Linked DNA regions of Homo sapiens: all the other regions are linked to region 3. Evidence: fine-mapped expression QTL. A gene starts in region 3. Each other region holds a variant in brackets. All regions are shown on one strand. Distances are from middle to middle.

Region 1 (4,238 bases), 26 kb after region 3:
ATATGCACCCTACTTCTGACCCCAAGAGCAACACAACTAGGACAGGTGAAAGGAGTAGAGGATGGGATGAGAAAGGCCAGGGACAGAAGCTTCCTTCCTTTCTTTTGCACCAAGCAGCGGTTTGTTCAGGAGCTACCGTTTTCCGTTTGTGCAGTGCTGCCTCTGCACCTCAGCAAATTTCTGACCGACCAACAGAATCAGAATAAGCCACTCATACAACACCCCACAACAGGGACCCATTGTCATGGAAGTCAGGTGGCTGAGAGCTAAGCATTATTCCCCTGATCTGTCCCGGGCGTTGTTTGGAGGTTGGATGAAATCATGAAATGTAAGCATTCTTTCTGAGTCTGGAAGCAATCCAACGAAATTGAATGATTCATTCCTGACCCCAATTACCTCCTTTTACCCCACAATATTCTTTCTCTACCTTCTCCTACAAAAGCATTTGTTCACTCAATAACTGCTATGTGCTAGTTTTAACAATCTGACAGCTCAAAGAGATAGACATCAGCTCTCTTTTTTTTTTCCTTTTCTTTTCTTTTTTTTTTTTTTTTTGAGATGAAGTCTAGCTCTGTCGCCCAGGCTGGAGTGCAGTGGCTCGATCTTGGCTCACTGCAACCTCCACCTCCCAGGTTCAAGTGATTCTTCTGCCTTAGCCTCCTGAGTAGCTGGGATTACAGGCATGTGCCACCACACCTGGCTAATTTTTTGTATTTTTAGTAGAGACGGGGTTTCACCATGTTGACCAGGCTGGTCTCAAACTCCTGACCTCGTGATCCACCCGCCTCAGCCTCCCAAAGTGCTGGGATTACAGGCGTGAGCCATCGCGCCCGGCTTTTCTTTTTCTTTAGAATTGAGAAACCATAGAGAGACACGTCAAAATAACTCCTGAAGATTGCCTCTTTATGCAAGAGAAATACAAATAACCAGATTTCTTCTTTCTCTTTGGGCTTAAAAATGAAATCTCATGTGATTTATCTTTGTAATTCCAAGAAAATATTTAATGTTTTATTTTCTCCTTTTTACCATATTTTACTTTACTATCTCACTTTCTGCTGTTCTGAATTATTTTTATCACCTTCTTTGTTCTTAGAATTGTCCTTTGCCCCCATTTTTTCCCTCTTCTTCAGTTTCCTAATTGTCCCAGCTATTTCACTCTCTCTTTCTTATGGTTCTCTCTAGAATCATCAAAGTGTAGAAATTTAATATGAAAAGGGATTTTCAGTTAGTTTAGCAGCATCATTTTACAGATGAAGAGCTAATGTTTAGGGAATTTGTCCAAAGTATTCCAGTTAATTTGTGGGAGGACCTGGCACTGGAACCCAAATGTCCTGATTACCTGAATACAGCTCCAATTCCTTCTTTAGATCTAATGCCACATTCACATAAGACATCTTCATATCCCTGCCATACCTGCTGATCTCTTGTGCTGCGTACTAATGTCAAATCTTAGGCTCTGGGCCATCAAGTATGGATTTATTTATTTATTTTTATTTTTGAGACACAGTCTCTGTTGCCCAGGCTGGAGTGCAGTGGTGTGATCTCGGCTCACTGCAAGTATGGATTTAGTTATTCTGGTGCTTAAAAGGTTTGAGATGTCATTTTTCTGAGTAGATGGCAGATGATTTCATGAAATCTGTGAAATGCGGTATTCTTATTTAATTTTATGAAAAAGAGAAATACAAAGAAGAAAAGGGGAAATTTTGATACAGTATTACCAATAGTAAAAGTGTGGAGAAAGAAAGAGGAAGTGAAATTTTACAACTCAAAACTATGCTCACGGTATACTCATAGATTTCAGTCAGTAGCACAATCTAATAATAAAACATTTGGGTCATAGGTCAAACAAGTAATTACAATCTGATGTTTTTCACTAATTAGAGTAGAAGCAAATTTTATTCAATGTTGTGTCCCCACAGTCCCCACAGTTCTTGATGCATCCTAAGTGCTCAATGCACTGTGTCTAATAAATGTTGACTGAAATAAATATGTGGTCTAGAGAAAGTTAAATTAGAAGATCGACTTAACACTGGATTCAGGGTTCTTTTAATGCCAATATTCTAATTCTAATTTTGAAAAGCAGCACAAGAATATTACCAGTTAGAAAGAAAGAATCCGGCCAGGCGCGGTGGCTCATGCCTATTATCCCAGCACTTTGGGAGGCCAAAGCGGGTGGATCACCTGAGGTCAGGAGTTCAAGACCAGCCTGGCCAATATGGTGAAACCCTGTCTGTACTAAAAATACAAAAATTAGCTGGACATTGTGGCACGTGCCTGTAGTCCCAGCTACTCGGGAAGCTGAGGCAGGAGAATTGCTTGAACCAGGGAGGTGAA[G/T]GTTGCAGTGAGCCATGATCACGCCACTGCACTTCAGCCTGGGTGACAGAGAGAGAGAGAGAGACACTGTCTCAAAAAAAAAAAAAAAAAGTTAACATAGTAAACATCATGTTATGCATATTTTACCATAAAAAAAAGCAAGGTAGGGAAAATGTGTATAGTTTTGAGTAAGGAGGGAGATAAATCTAGGTATATTATTACTTATGTATTACAAGGAAAAATAAATATAAATTTTAAATTGCTAACTTTAGTGGAAAAGAGGGAACAGGTTGGAGAACACAGGGATATAAGCTAGACTTATTTGAATATACCTTGCTTTGTAGATTAGATTTTGAAATTGTGTAGATATTTTATATAATTATAGAATAAAATAAATAGGCACTCTCAAAAAGAGAAGAAGAGGAACTATACCTCCTCTATCTCTTTCTTCCTCTACTCCGGCAACCTTATAGACCACTATTCCAGATGATAGTGGTACAAGCTAGGAGGGGGCTGCCTGACCACTATGGACTTCATGTGAGCCAATAAATAAACTCGTGTTGAGTTAAGCCACTGAAACATTGCAGAAGCTAGGATAGATTGGTTTTTGTTTTTGTTTTTGTTTTCGTTGTTTTGTTTTGAGACAGGGTCTCACTCTGTCGTCTAGGCTGGAGTGCAGAGGCACGATCGTGGCTCACTGCAAACTCTGCCTCCCGGCTCAAGCAATCCTCCCATCTCAGCTTCCCGAGTAACTGGGACTAAAGACACACGCCATCATGCTCAGCTAATTTTTGTATTTTTTGTAGAGATGGGGTTTCACCATGTTGCCCAGGCTGGTCTCAAACTCCTGAGCTCAAGCGATCTGCCCACCTTGGCCTCCCAAAGGGCCAGGATTACAGGCAGGAGCCACCACGACTGGTCTAGGGTATATTATTTGGACCGAATACCAGGTAATGCAGGTAAAGCACTTGGCCCTGACTCATGCTAAGCAGTCAGTACAAATGCAGCCAAGCCTCGGGTCAGCCCCAAAACCAAGAATGAGAACCACTCAGACTCCCTGTCAGAATCACATCTCTTCCCCTCTTGGAACATCTGTTTCTTTTTTTCTCATGTAGAGATCAGTTTTCTCTGCTTCTCTCTTCACATGATAAACAGAAGGTCACTATCCCATAATCCATAAAGTAATTTTTCCTCCATTCAAGAGGCCAATAAGTTCAGGTATTGGCTGTCTCTCAGGCTAATTCCCTAAAGTCTCAAACCCCTCAAAAGAAAGTATTACTGCTTTAGCTTGGGTTAAGTGTGTGCTTGTGGCCCAATAACATGGTCACTGGAGAAAGGTCTTGCCGCCCTCCAGCCCCTGCTGTGAGTGGGGCAGGCAGTCACCCAAGAGCAGTCACTGGCAGGCTCCACAGGCGTGCCCCCTAAAATGACTCTATTGGTTGGGATATGGGTTCAGAGACCCCAAATAATAATGGTATAAACAGAGAAAACAGTTATTTTTTCCTTTCTTGAACAGCTGTATGTAGGCAGCTTAGAGTTCATATGGTAGTTGTCGTGGGTCGAATAGGATCTCCCAAAAATTCATATCCACCCAGAACCTCAGAATGCAACTTTACATGGGAACAGCATCCCTACAGACGTAATTAGTTAAGGATTTGGAGATGAACTCATCCTGAACTTAGGGTGGACCCTAAATCCAATGACTAGTGTCATTATAAGGAAAGGAGAGGACGTAGAGGAACACAGAGAAGAAGGCCACGTGAAGATGGGGGCAGAGATTACAGCGATGCTGCCACAAGCCAAGGAACACCTGGGACCACCAGAAGCTGGAAGAGGCAGGAAGGATTCTTCCCTGGAGCCTTTAGAGGGAGCATGGCCCTGCTGACACCTTGATTTTAGACTTCCAGCCTTCAGGACTATGAGAG
Region 2 (4,238 bases), 36 kb after region 3:
GCTAATTTTTGTATTTTTAGTAGAGATGGGATTTTACCACATTGGTCAGGCTGGTCTTGAACTCCTGACCTCGTGATCCGCCTGCCTCAGCCTCCCAAAGTGCTGGGATTCCAGGCGTGAGCCACCATGCCTAGCCTATTAACTTAAAGATATATTAATGTTGCTGGGGATAAATCAAGAGGAGAAGTTGGACACACAAGAGAGCTGGGACAACTGAAAAATCAAGGTCTCAGAAGAGGTGGATGGTGGGATCATCTTTGAACAGAGACTGTGAGCCCCATGTCATTGGCACCAATGCATTGGGCCCTCGGCCTCCCCAGGACAGGGTGGGTCTCCTCTCAGAGGCCTCTTTCTTACCTCCCTGGAAAGAGGGGAGCCACAGCGACTCCCGCCCTGTCTTCATCAACCCTGCCTTTCTAATCAGGCTGCTAGCATCTTGGGTTGGATGCCTGATATTTCACTTCAAATGCCTCCCAGACTTGCTAAGTCACTTCCAGGAGGCATTGACAGCTGTGTGTGATCACTTGTGGTGGGACTCTTGAGCAGCAGCCAGCTCTAATACAGAGCTTCAAAGGTGGAGCTGGTTATATTCTGGCTGTCTTCACCTTCAGTGTCAAGGCATACAACAGCCCCTCGTAACCTAACAGGCATGTTTCTCATTACTTCTTTTTTATTTTTTATTTTTTTGAGATGGAGTCTCACTCTGTTGCCCAGGTTGGAGTGCAGTGGCACGATCTCGGCTCACTGCAAGCTCTGCCTCCCGGGTTCAGGCCATTCTCCTGCCTTAGCCTCCCAAGTAGCTGGGACTACAGGAGCCAACCACCACGCCCGGCTAATTTTTTGTATTTTTAGTAGAGACGGGGTTTCACCACATTAGCCAGGATGGTCTCAATCTCCTGACCTCGTGATCCGCCTGCCTCGGCCTCCCAAGGTGCTGGGATTACAGGCGTGAGCCACCGCACCCAGCCAAAGCCACCGCGCCTGGCCGTTACTCATTACTTGTTTGCAAACACTCTATGCCCCAGCTCCTCCAGACAGCTCACTGTAGAACGGCTCCCCATTCCTTTTCAATCTGCCCTACTAAAGATCCCTGACCAATTTGCGGAGAAGGACTGAGTCTTGTTCGTCGAGGTACATTGAACTCCTAGCACAGTGCCAGGTATAGAGTAGGCATTCAGTAATACCTGTGGGATACAATTTTCCCTGAATGCACTTCATGCTTTCACACTTGCAGGCTTTTGTTCACAATACTCCTGCTCCCCAGAAGATCCTCTTCCCGTTTCAGACTCTTAACTAGATTCCCCTTATCTGCTGTCTCTCTCTCTCTCTCCCCTCCAGCACCCGATTACTCTTCATCTTCTTAGCCTGTTGTGCTCTGTCCTGAGTTGCCCCAGCATACCGTATTCAAACTGCTGGTTTACTCGATTCACTGCCCTAACCCCCTTACCCCTATTAGGCCTGAAGACAATGGATAGGCTTTACCCATCTTTATATTCCAGTCTTAAACTCACTGTGTTTCTTTTTCTTTTCTTTTTTTTTTTTTTTGAGTCAGGGTCTCACTCTATGACCCAGGCTGTGGAGTGCAGTGGCACAATCATGGCTCACTGCTGCAGCCTCGAACTCCTGGGCTCAAGTGATCCTCTCACCTCAGGATCACTGACAAGGTCGCACCACGTTTCCCAGGTTGGTCTCCTAGGCTCAAGCAACCCTCCCGACTTGCCCTCCCAAAGTGCCGGGATTACAGGCAAGAGCCACCGTGCCTGGCCTACTCTCTGTTCTTAGCAACAATTAGAATAATGTCTGCCGTATAGTAGGTATCAATATACCTGTGTAATCCAGGTAGGACAGGCTCCTCTTCTGTATCCTGGAGTACTTCTTGCTAAAATACAGTGAGGAGAGATGAGACAGGAATTAAATATTCAGTCTTACTGTCTCTCAATTTTGAAACTGCCTCAGACCATAGGACTCTCTAAGTTTAGTGACACCTGGTAGCACCTCCATGGCAGGGGTGGAGGGCTGCAGCTCTGCTGGAGACACTCTCCCAGTTGATCAGAATGTGCTTACCACCCTTTTGGCCGCCTCACTAGTCTTTGCCAACCCAAACCCCACTGGCTGCTACGGAGTCCACAATGAAAGGGGTCCCCAAGAGAGTATTCTTGGATCTCACGCAAGAAATAATTCAGGGTGAGTCTGCAGAGTAAAGTGAAAGCAAGTATATTAAGACAGTAAAGAATATAAGAATGGCTACTGTGGCCAGGCGCCTGTAATCCCAGCACTTTGGGAGGCCAAGGCGGGAGAATCATGAGGTCAGGAGTTCGAGACCAGCCTGACCAACATGGTGAAACCCCATCTCTACTAAAAATACAAAAATTAACCATGTGTGGTGGCGCACGCCTGTAATCCCAGCTACTCAGGAGGCTGAGGCAGGAGAATCGCTTGAACCCAGGAGGCAGAGGTTGCAGTGAACTGAGATCGCGCTACTGCACTCCAGCCTGTGTGACAGAGTGAGACTCTGTCTCAAAAAAAAAAAAAAAAAGAAAGAAAAGAAAAGAAAACAAAGGCCGGGCATGGTGGCTCACGTCTGTAATCCCAGCACTCTGGGAAGCTGAGATGGGCAGATCACCT[G/A]AGATCAGGAGTTCGAGACCAGCCTGACCAGTATGGTGAAACCCTGTCTCTACTAAAAGTACAAAAATTAGCAGGGCGTGGTGGCGCGCGCCTGTAGACCCAGCTACTCAGAAGGCTGAAACAGGAGAATTGCCTGAACCCCAGGGGGGCGGAGGTTGCAGTGAGCCAAGATCATGCCACTACACTATAGCCTGGGTGACAGAGCAAGACTCCATCTCAAAAAAAAAAAAAAAAAAAATAGCTACTGCAAAGACAGAGCAGCCCCAAGGGCTGCTGGTTGCTCATTTTTATGGTTATTTCTTGATTATATGCTAAACAAGGGGTGGATTCTTCATGCCTCCCCTTTTGAGACCAAATAGGGTAACTTTCTGATGTTGCCATGGCATTGGTAAACTGTCATGGTGCTGGCGGGAGTGTAGCAGTGAGGTCACTCTCATTGCCATCTTGGTTTTGGTGGGTTTTGGCCAGCTTCTTTACTGCAGGCTGTTTTATTAGCAAGGTCTTTGTGACCTGTATCTTGTGCTGACCTCCTATCTCATCGTGTGACTTAGAATGCCTAACCTTCTGGGAATGCAGTGCAGTAGGTTTCAGTCTCATTTTACCCAGCTCCTATTCAAGGTGAAGTTGCTCTGGTTCACATGCCTCCGGCAGACTGGAGGTACAGATAGATTTCACAGAGCAGCCAGTATAGTCTGGATGAAGGAACAAAGGAAACGACACAGTTCCCTTGTACCGTTCATGCGGAAAAGGTCTTATAGAATTAAGCCTCCAGAAAGAGGGGGCCCACAAAGACCCTCCTTTTCTCTCCATTTCTCCATCTGCGCTCAATACCCCCCTTCCTGCCAACCCCTCTTTCACGCACCCAGACCTGATACCTTTCTCTTTTCCTCCAGATACTTCTCTCCGTAGTTTACCCTGTTACCCTAACCTTGTTGATTTTTTTTTTCTGCTTAGTCCATCATTTTCTCAGAAATGTGTCTTAACATCTCCCACTATGATTGTGGATTTGTCTATTTCTCTTTTTAGTTCTGTCAACTTTGTTATGTATTTTAAAGCTTTGTTCTTTATTAAGTGCTGCATATCATGTATGAAAAATTACAGATATAATTTGAGGCCCTAGATGATAGTAAGATTTATTTTTGCTTCTGGAAGGCAGTTGGGGTCTGGGCAGGCACCCTTAATCCAGTGGTTTTCAACCACAGGTGATTTTCCCCACCAGGGGACATTTGGCAATGTCTGGAGAAAGTTTGGTTGTCAGAATTTGGGGAAGGAGAGGTGCTACTGGCATCCAGTGGTTAAAAGCCAGGAATACTAAACATTGCATAGGATGGTCCACTGATAATGTCAATTTATCAGTGTCAATAGCACTGAGGTTGCGAAAGCTTGCCCTAATCCAATTATCAGAGGCGTTTGAACCAAAGTAACTCCATCTTGAGTAGGGGCTGCGTAAAATAAGGCTGAGACCTGCTGGGCTGCATTCCTAGAAGGTTAGGCAATCTAAGTCATGGGATGAGATAGGAGGTCAGCAGAAGATACAGGTCATAAAGACCTTGCTAATAAACCAGGTTGCAGTAAAGAAGCCGGCTAAAACCCACCAAAGCCAAGATAGTGAC
Region 3 (4,238 bases):
GTCACGAATGTAAAAACCACGATGCCCACAAGCTTTTTTGAGCTTATAATACTGCCCTTTCAAAAAAGAAAAGGACTTAGTAATCTATTCAGCTAAATAACCAGTAGGAAACAATGAAAGATTTTAAATGCTGTCACTACAAACAGCAGCAAAACTTGCCATAAAAGCACAGGGGAAAAGTCCAATAAAATAAAGAGAATTTTAAATGATTCCATATACAGAAAAAGATCTGAAAAGCACTTATTCAATTAAAATGCCATTCTTAAATAGCCATTAGTTAGAAAGGATCTTCAGTCCTGGACAGGATAAACTATAGGAAAATCAAGTGCATGGGATTCTTTATTCCCTGGCTATCCTGAACACCTTAAGATCAAAACTGGCTGTTACTTCTGAAACATGGCCTCTTCCTTCCTCCAGACATTTGGTCTACTTGGTCTGTGGCCCGCTATATTCTAAAAAGTATGCCAATCTCAAGTGCAAAGGCTATAGCTACTTTCCTCCCCCAAAAAAGTTTTAAATTTGCCTTCTGACATGGACTTTGAACAAACAGTAATCCAAACTGCATGGCTTCATCCAAGAATCTAGGCGCAGGTTAGCCTTTATAGTTCAAGAAACTGGGGTGTAGAAAAGTTTGTTGTCAGATGAGTTGGAGACGATCTTAAGTCCCATCCAGTTCTAATAGTCTAAGCTTTTAGAATCCAAGGAGTTGACTCTTTTGACAACCTAGGAATTTTGAAATCTGCTTTACTTCAAGCTGTACTGAAGCCTTACCCAAATTTGGGGGAGTGAAAGGAGGGAAGGGGAGAAAGCCAGACAAATGGTCAAATCAGAGAAGAGAATGACAGAAGACTGGCCAAAATTAGCCTATCCATAATAACTCTATCCCGAGATCATCAAGAACTTTATCTGGGCCAAGGAGTTTATCCTCCATTCTGAAAAGAGGAAATACAACGTAATAGCAAGAAAATATAGACAGAGCCTGAGGAAAAAAATAAGTTATCCTTCACTGCTCTGGCAAAGCAACTAGTAGGCCTTCCTAAGAAAGCAGTGGGGCCTGCCCAAAAGTGTTCTGGAGGTCACAGAACTGCCCTGTGTCAGTGTCTCAACTCTAGGCTGTGACCCCGAACGAGTTACTAATAACCTCTCACTCCTTTCTCCTCACCTGAAAAAGAGGATCCCACACGTGTCCTGTAAGGTTGCTGTGGGGATTGGAAATAATATGTTAAAGGGCCTGTCCTTAAAAACCATCCTATAAGTGATACCACGCTGTGATCTGAAAAGCTCATCTGAACCTTTTATCCTTTTCAATTCATATCATGTAATCCTTCTGTCTAGACTGCACATAAGAATTACAAGTAAGTCTGAAAAGCTCTGGCTCCTTCCTTAAAGAACTCTATCCTCTCGCTTTCCCTAAAGTGGAAGAATCTCTGAGTGATATGAGGAAAGGATTAGCAAGCCAAAAGGGGCAGGTGCCACCCAGCCCCATCTTACAAGAAACTGGACTGTCAGCGCTCTGAGGGCAGGGACTGCTCTGTTTAAACCACGACTGCACACACATTTTCCTAAAGCAAGCTAATTGCAGACTTAAGCCTCTCCGAACAGCTTACATGACACCCAAACATGGACCCACAATACATTTTGTGTCGCACAACATCAAGTCACACAAAAATCTCAAAATTATACATTACAATACAATTTAATTGTGCTGTGGTATTAAAGTCAAAGACAAAGGCTTTAAACCGAGTGCCTATGAGGTAACCACAGTAAAGTCACACCTTTAATAATAAGGGACCAAGAACACACGGGATGGCAACAGGGAGTGAGTGTCCAGCAGAGCCCTAGACGGAACTGGCGCAACCGCTCCAGATCGGAATTCGAACCCAGAACTTCTGGCGAAGGCCATGTAAGAACTACTCCAAGGAGGAAGAGGCCTTTACGGCCAGGTGCACCTTGCTGGAACTTTCTGCCGGAGGGGACCCCCTCCCCTCGGCCTGGGCCCCAAGCCCCAAGGGCGGCCGCGTGACGCGGTGGGAAGGACGAGGGTCGCCAGCCCCTTCTGCTCCGCACTGGGGTAGGGGCTCGGCGCTGTCTCGGAGAAAGGCCAGGCTCCTTCCAGTCAGGGAATAATGACAGCTCGCGCGCTCGCAGCCCGCCCCGCCCCGCCTCACCAGGCCCGCAGGCGGCTCCTCCCGCCCGGCTGAGGGGTCCGGCCGCGCCCCCTCCTCTCCCCGCCCTGGCCCGGGGTGCCCCCCGCCCGCACCGCCAGCCTCACCGGGTCGGAGCTGGAGGCCGCCGTCGCGGCGGCTGCACCACAGCGCGCGCTCGCCCTGCTGCAGGATGTAGTGGTCCTTGGCTTGGAAGAGCTCCATGCTGGCCCCGCGCGCCCAGGGAGGCGGCGGCCCGCGGGCGGCGCACGGGGCGTCCTAGTCGGTCGAGGCCGCCAGAGCCCGCGCCTCGGGGAGCGGCCGGGTAGGAACCGCGCCGAGAAGCAGCGGCAGAGGGAACGCCCCGGGGCACCCGACCGGTAGGAGGAGAACGCGCCCCGGCAGCGGCGGCGGCAGCGGCGGCCGTAGAGGCCTCTCCCCCCCGCTCCTCCCCTTCCCTGGCTCCGCCCCAGGCCCGGCTCCACCCCCTCTGCTGGCTACTCTCCCCGAGCGCCCGGCTCCGCCCCTCAGCCTCCTCCTCCTTTCAGCTCCCTCCCGCTTCCTGCCCTTTCCTCCGCCTTCTCCCGGGTGTCTCCTCCCAGCTCCTCCCCGCGGGTCTTTCCTCCTCCCTCTCGTCCTTCCGCCCGCCCCTCCCGCTCTTGCCCAGGCCCCTCCCCCGGCGCGCCAGCCTTCCTGTCGTGGTCACCGGTGGCAGCTCGGGAGCTCGGCCGAGTCGGTCTGGACTGACCGCCTCCCTCCGCGCGGCCTTGGGGACAGGCGCCCACCGCTGGGGCCTCCCCTCCGTGCAGGGAGGCGCTCACGCTTCGCCAGGCCGAGACCTGAATCCAACCCCACACCCGCTCTCCCGGAGCGGTGCGGGGTACGTTCCCCGCGGGCCTGCGCTGCCTGCCCGTACCGAAACCAGGCGAGACCCCGGGGCCTGGCTACAGGGGTTCATCCCCAGCCAGGCCCACAGCCAAGCGGAGGCGTCTTCTGTTTTCGTATTCCCTATTAGAAGTTTGACAACAGGAGGCATTCAATAAATGCACATCAACGAGGGAAAGCATGTAACAATAGAAAACACACAAGCATTAGCAGCACGCGGCTAAAGAGCGAGGAGGAAGGGAGGAATGTACAGGTGCTGCTGTGTCCCGAATTAAGCAGGGCGGTTTGGAGAAGACTTCACAAATGGAGCCAGTTAATGAAGCAAGCGGAAGGAATATCGTTTGGCGAGGATAAGATGAATGGAGACCCTCTCGGGGAAGGAGGAGTCTCCCCCAAACATCCTTGAGCTCAGTCTGTCTTGAAAAACCAGTTGATATCCTGAACAGAATGGGTCTGGAGAATGAGGCCCCCACTTCCGGGGCCAGTTCGAGGACTATCTAGCTGTGTGATCTTGGGGAAGTCTCTTGGTCTCAGATGGTGGTTGAACTAATGACCTTTTATGACACCCCCAGTTCTATAAATCATTGAGTCTTCCTACTCCTAACTCCTTGCCTTCTCTAATGCCTGAATCGGAAACAAGAGAAAAAGACAAGAAGTAGGAGATGAGAAAAATAAGGCAATACTTTTTTTTTTTTTTTTTTTAGTTTAGGAGCGGAAGTTTATAGGCAAAAGAAAAGGGAGAACAGCTGTCTCTCTTGCGAGAGAGAGGAGTGACCGAATGGGACTTCTCAGAAAGCAATACTTTTAACCTTCTGCTCAAGTAAAAGTGAGAGGGTACAAAAGCAGGAAGGAGTTCCACATGACTAGTTATTCCAGCCCACAGTGTTGAATTTCCATAGCACAGAAAGTCCAATGATAACAAAGCGTCCTGGAATCTTTTCTAAGTACCATGCCTCTGTGCTGTCCAGACACCTCAACATAAAGGTCGAGGGAGGTGGTTACTCTATCAAATCTTTGTGATGTGATTTGGAGAAAGAAGGTAATGAAGCTATAAGAAGCTTCAGTGGAACCATCGGTTTCAGATTGATTGTTTAATTCAGCCATGTGTTGACTTAGCAAAAATGAGAATGAGAAAATCCTATGAAGACATTGTATCCTGCAAATTATTTCATTATTGTTTTATGAATTACATTGCCAGATGTGAAGAAA

The links. PIP is the estimated chance that this variant, and not a neighbour inherited with it, causes the effect. A credible set is the group of variants that fine-mapping cannot tell apart.
Region 1: its variant is the best candidate, but not a certain one, in a credible set for the expression of INPP5F in whole blood (INTERVAL, PIP 0.69).
Region 2: its variant is the best candidate, but not a certain one, in a credible set for the expression of INPP5F in testis (GTEx, PIP 0.52).

The regions. Positions count from the first base shown.
Region 1 is chr10:119,698,102-119,702,339 of GRCh38, reverse strand. No RefSeq gene overlaps it. Among named protein-coding and RNA genes, the nearest start is that of INPP5F, 26 kb to the left of the region's middle. The variant G/T (reference allele first, on the strand shown) is at 2,335.
Region 2 is chr10:119,688,202-119,692,439 of GRCh38, reverse strand. No RefSeq gene overlaps it. Among named protein-coding and RNA genes, the nearest start is that of INPP5F, 36 kb to the left of the region's middle. RefSeq lists enhancers at 358-857, 3,931-4,238. The variant G/A (reference allele first, on the strand shown) is at 2,626.
Region 3 is chr10:119,724,394-119,728,631 of GRCh38, reverse strand. INPP5F (inositol polyphosphate-5-phosphatase F) reads right to left here and starts at 2,582. Exons shown (of 20, transcript NM_014937.4): 1 at 2,273-2,582. The coding sequence starts at 2,369. RefSeq lists a silencer at 2,154-2,923 and an enhancer at 3,534-3,583.